2 separate regions of the Homo sapiens genome follow, and region 1 is linked to region 2. The links come from fine-mapping of genetic effects on gene expression. Tissue or cell type: testis. Region 2 holds a variant in brackets; the other region holds the start of a gene. All regions are shown on one strand. Distances are from middle to middle.

What was found. PIP is the estimated chance that this variant, and not a neighbour inherited with it, causes the effect.
Region 1: it holds the start of LVRN, and the variant in region 2 is fine-mapped to the expression of LVRN in testis (GTEx, PIP above 0.99).

Annotation. Positions count from the first base shown.
Region 1 is chr5:115,961,251-115,963,866 of GRCh38, forward strand. LVRN (laeverin) reads left to right here and starts at 1,225. Exons shown (of 20, transcript NM_173800.5): 1 at 1,225-2,062. The coding sequence starts at 1,368. RefSeq lists an enhancer at 1,447-1,706.
Region 2 is chr5:115,985,478-115,988,239 of GRCh38, forward strand. LVRN (laeverin) reads left to right here. Exons shown (of 20, transcript NM_173800.5): 4 at 2,336-2,462. Among named protein-coding and RNA genes, the nearest start is that of LVRN, 24 kb to the left of the region's middle. The variant G/A (reference allele first, on the strand shown) is at 1,648.

The DNA of each region.
Region 1 (2,616 bases), 24 kb before region 2:
ATACAGCCAAAGCAGTAGTAAAGCGAACACCGTTTTATAGCTGCTATGGAAAAATTATTATATTTTCGCTGTAACACACACACACACACACACACACACACACACACACGCGCGCGAGTCTCAAGACGGGATAGTTTAAAATCTTCAGCCTGCAGTGGGATCTAACTACCTTCCCTTCCGTCCCCAGTGCCTCCTGATGCTTGCAATCTCATTCCCAATTCACCAGCGTGCGTGAATGCAGACTCCAGATCCAGCGCAGACGCCAAGAATTCGCTCAGGGGCACCAGCTAAATAGCAAACAGATGCCATGTCAAACATGTGAAAGCCTCAGCGACTAGGGTACCGCCGGGAAAACCAGTTCCAGCCCAGGAATTTCTGGGTGGAAACACTGGCCGCCGAATTGTTTTATTCTCTTTGCTTGATTCGAGTCGGTTCTGAAAGCAGGTGTCCCCTCTCCCCCGGCTTCAGGAAGGGAAACCCCGGCCCCAGGCAGTTGCAGAGCTAAGAAAAACCATCCCGCCAGGCCCCTTCTTGTGGTAACGCGGTCCTAACCCTGCTCTGCCCCACAACCCCATTTCACCCGGGAGACGCAGACGCCAGGCTCCCTAGCACTTTGTCGCCTCTTCCTCCAGCCTGGCTTCCTGAGCTCTGGAAAAGTTCCGGGCCTCCGGACGTTGTTTCCATCTTCGCCTTCGCTGCCTGGGCCGCATGCCTCCTGGGCTTATTTAGGAAGCGAAGTTAGCGCCACACATTTGGCTCCAGAAATTTGTTCTGACGGCGCGGCCGACGCCCTGCAGGGTCATTTCTGAACGCATTCCCAAATATCCTGGTCCTCAAGCCCTTACCACCCCCTAGCACACGAAGCCCCAGCTGGCGGTGGAGCAGGTGTGTTGCTGGTAGCTCATCGCTGGCTTGGAGATAGAGGTGCTTGGTACCTGTCCCCTTTCCGACAACACCTGAAACCGTATCGGGGCACACCCCTCATCCAAATATCCACGTTTAAGGTGTCCGGATTCGTTTGGCTTGACCACCCCCTCCCCGCGCCAACCCTGGAGGCATCTTCCGTGGGGTCTGTCTCTTCGAACCCAAAGGGGTACGCGTCTGGGTGAGCCAGGTCCGCCTCTTCCCTGGCGCTGGCCGGGGGCGGGGGTGGGTAGGCTGGGACCTGTGTCTGATTAGCTGGGAGGGGGAAGCCATGGTCCCAACCGCTGTCTGCTGAGCTCCAGTCCGTCCAGGCTCTTCCAGGAGGAAGAGGCACGATACAAGAGAGGAGGGGCAGGGGTCGCAGCACTGAACACCCTGGCCGGGGTTTTGACAGCTGCCACAGTCTCTGAGCTCCAGCCTCGCGCCTGAACCCGGTCCCTGCCATGGGGCCCCCTTCCAGCTCAGGCTTCTATGTGAGCCGCGCAGTGGCCCTGCTGCTGGCTGGGCTGGTAGCCGCCCTCCTGCTGGCGCTGGCCGTACTCGCCGCCTTGTACGGCCACTGCGAGCGCGTCCCACCGTCGGAGCTGCCTGGACTCAGGGACTTGGAAGCCGAGTCTTCCCCTCCCCTCAGGCAGAAGCCGACGCCAACCCCGAAACCCAGCAGTGCACGCGAGCTAGCGGTGACGACCACCCCGAGCAACTGGCGACCCCCGGGGCCCTGGGACCAGCTACGCCTGCCGCCCTGGCTCGTGCCGCTGCACTACGATCTGGAGCTGTGGCCGCAGCTGAGGCCCGACGAGCTTCCGGCCGGGTCTTTGCCCTTCACTGGCCGCGTGAACATCACGGTGCGCTGCACGGTGGCCACCTCTCGACTGCTGCTGCATAGCCTCTTCCAGGACTGCGAGCGCGCCGAGGTGCGGGGACCCCTTTCCCCGGGCACTGGGAACGCCACAGTGGGCCGCGTGCCCGTGGACGACGTGTGGTTCGCGCTGGACACGGAATACATGGTGCTGGAGCTCAGTGAGCCCCTGAAACCTGGTAGCAGCTACGAGCTGCAGCTTAGCTTCTCGGGCCTGGTGAAGGAAGACCTCAGGGAGGGACTCTTCCTCAACGTCTACACCGACCAGGGCGAGCGCAGGTAAGGGCTGTACAGCCCGGGGCCCCTCTCGGCCCCCGCCCCTGCGTCCCGGTGCAGGCTGCGGGTCCAGCTGACTACCGTGTCCAGGTGCGCGTCTGCTGCCCTTTCCAAAGAATCCCCTTGCGACGTTTTCTTTTTTCTTTTTATTTATTTATTTTATTATACTTTAAGTTCTAGGGTACATGTGCACAACGTGCAGGTTTGTTACATATGTATACGTGTGCCATATTGGTGTGCTGCACCCATTAAGAAATATACCCATTAGGTATATCTCCCAATGCAAACTATCGCAAGGACAAAAAACCAAACAGCGCATGTTCTCACCCATAGGTAGGAATTGAACAATGAGAACACTTGGACACAGGAAGGGGAACATCACACACCGCGACGTTTTCTTTCAAAGCCAGACAGAGTGCGAGCGCCTCCTTTCTCCCTTTTCCTATAACCTTGCTCCGAATAAAGAGACGGCGGAGACCGCGGTCCTTCCTCTGGCCAGTTTTCAACCCTGTATCTGCTCATCCCGTTTGTTTCTATTGCTGCCCCTTTTTAGGTCG
Region 2 (2,762 bases):
AACAACAAGGGTGGTTTTGAAGAAAACTTACAATGAATAGGTGTTTCTACATAATGAGTTAACACATTAACTAGACATTTAGAGGCACTCTCAGACTCAAGGTTAGTCAGAAGTTACATAGTGGATTAGCATTTAAAATAAAGTCACTCTTGTCCCCATACCTATCCAGAAGCTGAACTGCCATGTTCTTCAGTTCTGGAGCATGCAACACTTTTTCTGAGTTGTGTAAAGTCAGCACTCTGTCCTGAAATAGCTGGTTTTCACCCAATTACCCCCTTTATAATAATCCTTTAGGAAAATATGGAGGTCGTGCTGGCAGTGCTTTATATGCTTGTTCACTCCCTATTATAGCGGGCCTTAGGCCCAGTTCTTTCTAGACACGTAGACTTCATCAAGCTGAGAAAAATCAGGCCCTATAGCTCGCTAACATACTCTCCTGGGCCCAAGGGGCCCAAGGTCTTCCAGGCTTGCACCATTGACATGTGGAGAAAAGGAAGCTGTGGGTGAGCCAAGCCCCTCATCAGGGGAGAATTACTCAAAGCTACTCCTCCTTTACAACTCCTAACCTAGTGATGAATTAGTAATATTGTGTTGGCTGAGCGATTCTCAAAGCTCCTCCTAACTTAATGAATTAATAATACCGTTTTAGATGCAAATGGCAGCTTGTTATCTTCCTAGGCTGTTGGCTCCAGTCTGATTTTCCTATTGAATAATTACTAGTAGAACCTTGTCATCTACAAATATAACACTGGCCAAGTTAAACGTGCATGGCTTATATTTTTAAATCTGCTCAGGCATGATTTGGAAGCACGTGCTTTGAGCTTGGTAAGGAGGAATGGGCTCCCATAGGTAATGACAGACCAAAGGTGATTCCTTGGCATCCATTATCTCAAGTGCCTTGCTGTGGTCAGTGCTGCTGCACAGTCAACCATTCTTGTAGCGGGATGATATCGATTTATCTGTGAAAGATCACCCCGAAAAGGATGCCAGCTGCCATAGAAACAACAAGGAAATGGAGCATACCTAAGAAAGTCATGTTCTTAGCCAGCACACTGAAGTTTGGCATGAGTCTATCAGTGGAATGTGAACATTTGGCTACAGCTCAGCTTTACAAAGTTAATGGGTCCATTATATACTCTGCAGAGGAACAAAAATGTACACTTGGAATAGAGTCCAGCCCATTTACAAATTTCTCATTAAGTAACAGATAAAGATTTCATGAAATGGAAAGTGTGGTTAATGTGTGGCATGAGAATAAACATAAGAAACATGTAAGTAGTTCAGAATTTACATAATTCTAGAAATACTTTTAAGCAGAAATAAAAGCAAAGTAAGACGAATATGTTCTTGGAGGGCACAAATCTGTAAATACTGTGATTCTTTCATTTCCTTAGCATTTTCTCTAATGTTTTGCAGAGCGTTCTTTCTTAAATTAACGGCATTCACAACAGGACAAATATTTTAATTATCTCACTTGGTAACTTTCATTCCAAGATCTTTAAGTTTTATGCATGTTCTTTAACATTAATGCTGGCAATTCTATTAAAAATTACTTACTTTTTTTTTTTAGAGTTTACAATACTTTCAATTTATAGTAATAATTAATGTTAAAACAATAGGATATTACTCACAAAATCACACAAATAA[G/A]CTCCAATTACACAAACAATAGTGTGGTCACACAAAACGGACAAAACATGGCAGAGATTTCCTTTTACTTGCTAAAGTGGAAGTGTCATTTGGCAATAGAAAAACAAGAGAATTATAATTCACTTGCTTTGACAGTTTTAAAATTATGAGACATTTGATGAACTTTTTTAAATTAGGAGAATTAACCTTATTTCAAATTTTGTAAGTAAAGTAGGACTATTAATGTTCTAACTGCTAAACAATTTTAAATGTGCATGATTTAAATATGCTTAATATGTACCATACTATATAACCCCCACTCACAGTGCAATTCTGTTTTGGATCATTAGTAATATATCCTGAAATGGGAAGCAAGGGCCCAAAGTGCACAAAATGCCTATAGAATCTACACTTACTGTAGGGGTAGATGCTGGTACAACCCATTCCAGGGGTTGTTTTATGATTCCAGATTGTACATGCTATTGTCAAAGATTGAAATAACACACTTTCGGGGGAATCACTGTTCATAACTTAGTGAACAGCCTTCAGGGGTTTTCTCAGGACATGTAAGCATGCAAGCATTTTATTATGCAGCTTCTTCTGGAAAGGTAAGACTTTGGTTCAGCAGCAGGGAATTGGAGCAAGCAGACTACCTCTTTCCAAAATCACTACTGGTTTTCCTAATCACTGCTTAACTGTTTTGATTTAGATACGCATCTGGGCCCGGAAAGATGCAATTGCAAATGGAAGTGCAGACTTTGCTTTGAACATCACAGGTCCCATCTTCTCTTTTCTGGAGGATTTGTTTAATATCAGTTACTCTCTTCCAAAAACAGGTGAGGTAATCTTTTCCTTTCAGTGCATTTGGTTTCCTGTTATTTGGGCCCTTGGTTGAGGCCTCAAGATACACAGACAAACCCATAAGGATTCACCATCACCATTTAGCTGCTGGTTTGGAGTTAGCCTCCTGACCTATGCCTTATACCTTCTGAAACACACAGAGGCTCACCTGCTCTTTCTCTGTACAGAGCCATGTGCTCAGCAGCTGCTGAAGAGCTCTCAGACTTTTTAGGTCTCTCCTGGCTACTCAATGGCAGCCTCCCGTCCTCTAGACCCTACTTTCTCTTTTGAGTTCA